Homo sapiens: one gene and its partner. The protein of the gene in region 1 interacts with the protein of each later gene in a biochemical or structural test. Each region holds a gene or a part of one and is shown on either strand. Other genes may lie near its edges.

Region 1 (5,694 bases):
AGGTGAAACCCGAAGACTGGACCATGATCACAACACTGACAGGGCTGGGCTGTTCTAGCAGCCTGTGAGAGAAAGTGGAGAGTGGCTCCGGACGGGACGCACCACCATGACAGAAACGAGACAGTCACTACCCACAGGGACATGGGATGGGAACAGTGGCCAGGATCCCCAGTCTTGGGGCGAGGGTGGTGTCTTTCCCCTGCCCCCGCTTTGTCCTGGGCAGCCCCTGCACCTGATCGTAGAGGGCAGCTGGACCCCCAACCCCAGAGTGAGCAGGTGTGGCCCAAGAGGGGAAAGCCTTCCCCAGGCCAGTCCATTCCAGGCTAGGGACACACGTCCTGGGCAGTGCTATCCCCTTCTCAGGACCTCAGTCCTGGGGCCAGGTGCTGAGGGACTGGGGGAACTTGGCAGGGGCAGCCCAGACACGCGGGTCCACCCCCTCTTGGCCCCGGATGGCGCAAAGCGGCCACCTACTCTGTCCGCGGCACTGAGCTGGAAGGACCCAAGGGAGGTCCCGGAGACCCTGGGGCCTGCGTTGGTGGGGTGGCCTTGGAGCCCTGGTCTGTGCCTGCCAGCCGCTAGTAGGCGGGCACCTGGTACCCTTTGGGGCTGGTGTCCAGGGTCTCGGTGAAGGGCGGGCTCTGGTAGGTCTCGGTGCCCTCCACGCCGCTGCCCACCGGATAGCCGGGGTAGGCCTGGCTCGCCCCGGTGCTCAGCTGTTCGGTGGCGAAGAGTGACATGTCGGTGCCCAGGCGGAACCGCTGCAGGGCCTTCACGGTGAGCGCCACCTGCGCGGGGCGGGGTCAGCGGGGTCAGCCGGGATCAGCCGAGCGCCCGCCCCTTCGCCCCGCCCTCCCGGGCCCCGCACTCACCCAGCTGAGGATGGAGAAGAAGCTGAAGGCGATGGCGGCCCGCGCCGCGTCCCCCGCCTGCGTCGTGGCCGGCCCTGGCGCCGTGCGCTGCCACTGATTGGTGAGGAAGCAGAAGCCCACGAACCACAGGAAGGACCAGAGTCCTGCGAACAGTGCGGCGCGTCAGGGCGACGCTCCACGCGGTGGCCCACGGCGGCCTCGCCCGGAGGAGGAAAGGTCGGTGGGCCCGAGGCTTGGGGCGCCTCGCCTGGGCTCGCCGCGTGGCGCGAGGTCCCGCCTCCCTCTCCTGCGCTGACCCCGCCCACCCGGGAGCGCCAGACCCGTTCCGCGCCCAGGCTCCGCCCAGACCCGGGCCCCGCCTACCTAGAAAGTCCCGCGGCGCTCCCCGTCCAGGCTCCGCCCCCTCCCCGCCCACCCGGGAGGCCCATTGACACTCCCTGCCTCAGTCCCCGCCCCTCGTCACGGCCACGCCCAGCTGGAAACTCCAGCGGTGTTCCCCGCCCAGGCCCCGCCCCCTCCCCGCCCACCCGGAAGGCTCTCCGCGCTCACCGCCCCGGCCCCGCCCACCTGAGAAGCCCAGGTCCAGCAACACCGCGCGCCGGCGGTCGCGGACGCTGCTGATTTGCTGGAAGCGCACATCGAGCAGCAGGAAGGCGGCGCAGGCGAGGAAGGCTCCGAGGCCCAGCGCGACGCCGAAGCGGCAGGCGCCCGCGTTCCCGTTGAACACGCAGCGCAGCTCGGGGCCGCTGTCGGTGTTCACGTAGCCCTCGTTGACGATGGGCCCGAAGACGGCGATGGAGAACACCTGCGTGCGGCGCGGCGCTCAGGGCCCTGCGGCGACCCGACCTCTGCGAGCCCGCCTCGAGCGCCCACGCCCCTGGGCCTGTCCCTGCGTTCCCAGGCCCGTATCTGGGTGGGGGGCGGTGTCACCTCTTTCTTTCCCGAACCCTCGCGTATTTAGTAATTATTGACAACACGGGCCGTTTAGTGAGCATCTACTATGCCCAGACATTGTGTTAAACAGCCACTTTACATGCGTCCCCTCACCAAATCCTCAGAAAGTCCCCGTGGGATCGCCATTGTTCTTATTCTCTTTATAAATGCGGGGGACATTGGGACCCCAACAGGTGAAGTGACTTGTCCGGGATCACATGGCTGACAAAAGCCGGGGTTGATTCAAGCCAGGTACTCTGCACCGCGTGGGCCCGTGGAGTCCCCTCAGAGCCCACTCAAGAGTGTGGGAACAGGAGCCTTCACCTGGGCCCGCGATTCCCAGGCTGGAGCCGGAACGGCGAAGGGGAGGTGAGAGTGCAGCAGGCAGAGCGGGGCGGGAGGGAGGGTATGGAGGCAGCGGAGCTGTTGCTTCCTGCGCGGTTGGGAACTGTCTGGCCTGTTTTCTAGCATGCAAATAGGGTGACGGGCACAGCTCATGCAGTGCTGGGACAGACATGTCCACCCAGCTTCCTGCACGTGGTGGGTACCCGAGGGATGACAGCCCCCACGTGACTGATTATTAATATCACCTGTAAGTGTTTGGGCTGAAAAGATGACACCGTTGACCTCTGAGGTTCCGTCAAACCTCAATGCCTCCTGCCCACCAGTTCCGGGAGACAGGCATGAGGGGGACCGCAGTCATTTTAACCAGCGCTGCACGGGGCAGCCCTGTGTTTCCAAGAAACGACCTCCAGCCTCAACCTCATCCCTTCGCTCCTTTCCCGCTCCAGCTCCGAGAGTGGAGCCAAGGGGGAAGCCGGGACATGCACTTGTCCCCAAGAGTGGGCCACAAGTCGGGACGTGCGCTCGGACCAAAACGCAGCGTCCTGCCTCCCGGTCTGGTCAGAGCCACTCCGCAGGGGAGGCCAAAGCCCCTGCCCCACCGTGGGCACCGCCCTCCTCCAAGACAGGCGCCGAGGTGCGGCTGGCCCAGAGGTTGCCACCTGGACAAAACCCAGAGCTCGGCACCCAACTGCCACCTCCCCTGCCGGAGGGAAGGAGCAGCAGGGCCCTCCCAGGGACGCCCCAGTGGGCTAGGCTGCTCCCAAACCTGCCTTCCACACCGCCGCCAGGAAGCCCTCCCAGCCCAGAGCCTCTCCTCCCTCAACTCACAGCTGGAACTGGGGGCCAGGGGACAGGCTCCCTGCCAAGGAGACCCGAGGGTGTGTGTGCGGGGGAAGGGGAGGCGCTTCTCGGTTCCCGTAGCCCCCTCCTGCCCCTCGGAGAATTCCGTCCCCACCCCGTCCCTGCTTCCAGGTCACGAGAACAGGAAAAACGGAGTAAGGGCTGCGGAAAGGGACTGAAATTAGACCCGGGGAGGAGGTAGGGGTAGAGGCGACCGGCGGTGACCTCTCAAGGTCCCTCTCCGGCGCCGCCGGCCCCTCCTCCGCCCGCAGGTGGGCGCGCCCTGCCCGGTGACGTCACCCCAACCTGAGGCCGGCGGGGGAGGGGCCGGCGAGGATGAGAGTGAGTGAGGTCGGGGGGCGAGAAGCAGGGGGCAGGGGGTAGGGGGCAGGGGGCTGGTAGGGGCCTGAAGGTCGCGAGGCAGGGGCGGGAGCGGGGGCCCGGGCAGGGACCACTCACCCAGGACGCGACCCGGAGCAGGGTCTGGGGCCGCCGCGCAAAGCTCACGGGGTCCAGGGCGGCCCCTGCGCGGCCCGCGCCGAAGGAGGCGCCCTCCATGGCCGGCCCGGGCGGGACGCGCGCCCCTGGCGCCTTCTGTCCGCCTGTCCGTCCGGCCGGCCCCGCCCGAGGCCGCTGCCGCTGCCGCTGATGCTGATGCTGATGCTACCAACGCTGCAGCCGCTGCCGCCTCCCGGGAGCGCGCGCCGGCCGCGGCGGGGACGCGCGGGACGGGGCGGGGCCGCGCCCGCGCCCCCCACTGGGTCCATGCGCGCGGGGCCGGGTCCCTCCTCTCCCTCCGCCGCGCCCACCTCCCATCCCCCACCCTCACCTGCCTGCCCCGGTCCCGAGATGGAGACCATCCTCAGGAACCCACCAGCCAGGTCCCCGGGGGCAGGGTGGGGCTCGGGTGCTGGGCGCAGACTTTGCTAGAGCCGGGAGGACAGACAGGAGGAGTCCGCTCCTCTGGGAAGGGCACTTGGGTGAGGGAGTAAAGGGGTAGGAGGTCCACGGGCTGCAGCATCTTCCCCCAACCCACGGGAGAGGGGACCGGCTCCCTGGCCCTGGTCCCAAGAAGACCAGATGGATAACTGGGGTCTTTCTCATGGCCCCCCACTGTGCTCTAGCTGCTATCACAGCTTCTAGCCTCTGGCGGGGAGGATCTGGTGGGAAGAAAGGCGTTGGCCCCAGGAGCACCTGTTGAGGGAGGGGACAGAGCCACCGTGGCCAGCGCCGCTGGGAGTGTTGGTTTCGGTGTCTCCGCTCCTTGCCCGTGGCCAGGTGGTGGTGCTCCCAATGCCCTCCCTACTCCTGGGTCTCCCCAGCGTACTTGCGGCGCCTAGTCTGGAATGGAGGGCAGGGAGCGGCATCAGAGACTAGGAGTCGGGTGGGGGTGGTGCCTGGCTGCCCTGTGTCCCGCTGAGTCCCCTCCACAGACCCCAGCCTTGGGTGCAACAAGGTCCCTCTCCTCATGTTCCTAGCAGGCTGGAAGTTCAGATGACTCCTAGGTTTCTGTCTAGAGCACTGAGATGTCTGCACTGACATTTACAGCGCCAAGCGCTTGACCTGTGTAGTGGCGGAGACTGTTACCACCCTGTACTTCAGATAATAAGCAACCCAGGTCCCTGCTACACGAGCCGGGTGCACAGATGGTGCTGCGTGGCCCAGCCCCCCTGGAGCTCATTCTTCAGCCTTGCTGGGCACAGGTGGGCAGAGCAGGTGTTGCCAGAGGCGCTACTCACTGTGTTCCAAGTCCATCACACTGTGCGTCCGATCACAACCCCTCTCACCTGTTGGCCACAGACCTCCCCTCTGTGTCATTCATTCTCTACTTCATCACTAACATCAGCACCCAGACATGCTGCACTTTCTCCTAAAAGCCAAACACTGTTGACCCCACCTCCCCTCCAGCTGCCTTACGTTACTGCTTCCTTTAGCAGCAAACTCTGCCTGCAACACCCTCCTCTCTCTCCCTCTGACCCGGCAGAATCAGCTCCCACCGCCACCTAAACTCAAGGTTGCCACTGACCTCTCCGTGCCAATCCCAAGGGCAAGTCTGATGCTGCTGTCGACTCATTTATTTCTTTAGTTATTTATTTATTTTTTGAGTTACAGTCGCACTCTGTTACCCAGGCTGGAGTGCAGTGGCGCAATCTTGGCTCACTGCAAGCTTTGCCTCAGGGGCTCAAGTGATTCTCCTACCTCAGCCACTGGAGTAGCTGGGATTCCAGGTGTGCCACCGCACCCAGCTAATTTTTTTTTTTTTTTTTTTTGTATTTTTAGTAGAGACGGGGTTTCGCCATGTTGACCAGGCTGGTCTCGAACTCCTGACTTCAAGTGATCTGCCCACCTTGGTTTCCCAAAGTGCTGGGATTACAGGCGTGAGCCACTATGCCCCTCCTGGAGGTCCTCCTCCCTCATGGGTCCTTCCTCTGTGACCTGTGAGCCTTAGGAGCCCAGGGCGCGATCCTGGGGAGGTCTCTCCCTCTGTGCTAACTCCTTTGGTCTGCGTGTCAACAGCTCTGGAACACCAGCTCAAGCCAGAACTTTTCCTTGCACTAGAGTTCCACTGGCCTGGATGCCTTCAAAAACAGACTCTGGCCTGGCGCAGTGGCTCACGCTTGTAATCTCAGCACCTTGGGAAGCTGAGGTGGGTGGTTCATGAGGTCAGGAGTTCAAGACCAGCCTGGCCAACACAGTGAAACCC
Region 2 (3,680 bases), on another chromosome or scaffold:
CCCTCTGTCCTTTGGGCAGCATGTCAGAGCCTCAAGGCAACCCCAGTTCCTGGGACAGTGTGTTTGGAGGCAGATGGCCAGGCCCCGCAGTCAGGACTCTGCAGGTGGCCAGTGTTTCAGCATGAGGGGAGGAGCCAAGCCGAGAGTGGCTGGGTGGGCAGTGGGTGGAGAGGCTCATACCCTGATGTGGCTCCCATGCTGGTCATCAGCCACCTGCCTGGCCAGGTAGCTGCAGGCTGGATCAGGTGTCACAGGGGAGCGCCTGCCTCCTCCTCACCCTGATCTGTGTGTGCAGCTCAGGCCTCTGCCCAGTGCCACACCAGAGCCAGTGCCCATGGCTGCCTCCCTGGGCCTCACCTCATGCACTTTCACTCCAGGACCTGCAATTGTCCTTTCCTTCCATTTCTTTCCTGATTTCTCTTCACTATACATCAATCCATCATCTATTATCTATCAATCAATCATCTATCTATCTATCATCTATCACTGTCATCTATCAATCCATCACCAATCTATCATCTATCTGTCATCTCTATAATCTATCAACTGTCTATCATCTATGAATATATGAAGTACATGTGTGTGTATGTATCTATCTCCATCCATCCTATTGTATATCCATCCTATCTACCTACCTATCATCCATCCATCCACCCATCCATCATCCATCCATCCACCCATCCATCATCGATCCATCCATCCATGCTATCCAGCTACCTATCATTCATCCATCCACCCATCTGTCCATCATCCACCAATCCACCCATCATCCATCCATCCATCCATCCACCCACCCATCCATCATCCATCCATCCATCCATGCTGTCCAGCTACCTACCTATCATTCATCCATCCACCCAAACATCCATCATCCAGCAATCCACCCATCATCCATCCACCCACCCGTCATCCATCCATTATCCATCCATCCATCCATCCTATCTAGCTACCTACCTATCATTCATCCACCCATTCACCCATCCATCATCCATTCATCATCCATCCATCCATCCATCCATGCTATCCAGCTACCTACCTATCATTCATCCATCCACCCAGCCATCCATCATCCAGCAATCCACCCATCATCCATCCACCCATCCATCCCATCCATCATCCATCCATTATCCATCTGTCCATCCTATCTAGCTACCTATCATTCATCCACCCATTCACCCATGCATCATCCATTCATCCATCCATCCATCCATCCATCATCCATCCATCCATACTATCCAGCTACCTACCTATCATCCATTCCTCCATCCACCCATCCATTATCCATACATCCAGCCAGCCAGCCTTCCATCCACCCATCCTATCTATCCATTCTATCTACCCACCTATCATCCATCCATCCTATCCACCTACTTACCTAGCATTCATCCATCCATCCATCCATCCATCCATCCATCCATCCATCCATCCAATCTATTCACTGTCTCCACCTAATTTCTGACATCTCATCTTTGTAATTTGTTCTCCAGTGAGCATCTTTTCACATGCACTGGTGTTTGTTTTGCCTCCTCCTGGGGCTGCCTATTCTTCCTAGCTGGAGCACTAGGCTCTACGTTGTCCTTGTGGTATTTTTCTTTGATTCTGTAACATGCCATGGTCCTGCAAACACACCCCTTGGCTTCATTTTGGCCTTTCTGGGGTCCAGACGCCCTGCTGACTTCATGGTTTGTCTGGCTCCAGCTCTGCACTTGTGGGCCCCCGGCCACAGCTGATTTTGCTGCCCTGGTTGTCCTCCTCTCTCTTCCTTGGCTCCCGTGGGCCACACGCCTGCTGCACCCATGGCTCCTGTCTCCACAGGGCTTCCCCTTCAGTGCTGCAGGCACACTTCCACCCCCACCCCCACCCAACTGCTTTGCAGCCTCATAGGTGCCATGTCCAGGTGCCCTCTCTCACTGCACCTGTCAGCTGCTGCCTCCCTGGGGCTTCCTGGGAGGCTTGCAGCCATGCCCGCCCATCCCTTCTCCCCTTCCTTCCCACTTCTGCCTTGGGTTTACACTTGCCTCATGACCCCCAGACCTGGCTCCACCGGCCCACCCACACAGGGCAGCACCTCTCAACGGCCTCCTGCCTCATACCCCAGCTGAGATGGCCCTTCCCCTCTTGCTGCATTGTCCTCCCACAGCAACATGGATGCCCCTGGGCGGCTTTGGGGCCTGCCACCTCCCCCACTTAGTCCACCTGATTTCCAACGATGCCCCAAGGGAGCTGCCATTTTTGTCATGCCAGCCTTCCGCCAACAGCTGCTTCTGTTTCTGGGCCTGTTTGCCAGGAAGGGTGCAGCCCTTTCTCCTCCCTTTCTGGACAAGGGTCCCATCCCCCATGGCCCAGCTGAGTCTCCTCTCTCCGGGAGGCTTTCTCCAAATATTTTAACCCTGAATTATGTCTTCTTTTGCTGACCAAAGCTGCAGCCTGAGTCTAGATGGAGTTTCTGATGTAATTTGATTTAGATGACTCGTGCTGTATCACAGGTACTTGGGATTTGGCTTCCCGAGGAAAGAACCCTGGTGTCTGCAACTCTGACACCTCTCAGCCCTGGCAGGCAATGCATATGGAAACCTGGGAATGCCAGAGCCCCTGTGGACTGTGAAGCAGTGAGCAGACTGTACTCACAGACGCCTCGCAGAGCCGGTAGAAGTCAACGCTCAGGTATGCTCTGATGCCGTCTATGGCTCCAGGGAGGGTGACCCCACGCAGGAGCAGGGCAGTGAGGACCACGTATGGCATGGTGGCTGTGATCCATACCACCTGCAGGAGAGGACAGTGTCACCAGGCTGCACAGGCAGGGCCCTTGGTGGGAGCAGACACTGGCACAAGGGCACCGGGTTGCCCTGACGGCTTGTCCTCTGATTGGGAGGCCCAATTCCCAAACATTTCCTGGGACGCCAGCTCAGCAAATGCTCCTTGGAGTGAGAAGGTCAGACACTTTCTGTCCTGCACACCCTCCCCAGGGATGGAAAGGGAAGAACAACTTGGCAGGGAAAGCACATTCCTTTTCTGCATTCGGTCCGCCAGAGTAGCTGGGAGTGGCTGATGGGGGTTTTCTGATGCGTGGGACGTGAGTGGATTCACACTGGTGAACGGCACTGTGGCACGATGAAGGGCTGCTCTGGGCTGTGTCCCTGCGGGAGGCTCCCGTGGCTGGTGCCATACTACACGCACTTTTCCAAGGGAGGAGTCGTATCTTGGTCAAAACTGGTTTTGGCCCATATAACAACCAAAGTTTTTTTTTTTTTTTTGAGATGGAGTTTTGCTCTTTTTGCCCAGGCTGGAGTGCAGTGGCATGATCTTGGCTCACTGCAACCTCCGCCTCCTGGGTTCAAGCAATTCTCCTGCCTCAGCCTCCCACGTAGCTGGGATTATAGGCACGTGCCACCGTGCCTGGCTAATTTCGTATTTTTAGTAGAGATGGGGTTTCATCATGTTGGCCAGGCTGTTCTTGAACCCCTGACCTCAGGTGATCTGCCCGTCTCAGCCTCCCAAAGTATTTTTATCAACAAAAAAATCATCTTGTGTGTGCCTTCCTGCCAGAAACACTGCTGTGAGTGCTTCCCTCCTGAGGCCCTTCCCCAAACACAGCCACACGTGGACCCAAAACCCAACTGTGCCGTGTGTCCGCCCAGCCCAGCCACGGCCACGTGTCCCCCCACCCACCCATGGCCGCG

Evidence for each region. Proteins that work in one complex are often made in the same cells at the same time.
Region 2: the proteins of SYNGR3 (region 1) and SLC6A3 form a complex in vitro, tested with the Homo sapiens proteins (one study listed by BioGRID).

Annotation. Positions count from the first base shown.
Region 1 is NC_000016.10:1,987,957-1,993,650, reverse strand, and holds the start of SYNGR3 (synaptogyrin-3), read right to left. Parts: upstream 3,682-5,694; 5' UTR 3,549-3,681; coding exon 3,450-3,548; intron 1,678-3,449; coding exon 1,440-1,677; intron 1,016-1,439; coding exon 873-1,015; intron 789-872; coding exon 579-788; 3' UTR 1-578. UniProt on the Homo sapiens protein: May play a role in regulated exocytosis. May indirectly regulate the activity of the plasma membrane dopamine transporter SLC6A3 and thereby regulate dopamine transport back from the synaptic cleft into the presynaptic terminal.
Region 2 is NC_000005.10:1,417,941-1,421,620, forward strand, and holds part of SLC6A3 (sodium-dependent dopamine transporter), read right to left. Parts: intron 2,764-3,680; coding exon 2,629-2,763; intron 1-2,628. UniProt on the Homo sapiens protein: Mediates sodium- and chloride-dependent transport of dopamine. Also mediates sodium- and chloride-dependent transport of norepinephrine (also known as noradrenaline). Regulator of light-dependent retinal hyaloid vessel regression, downstream of OPN5 signaling.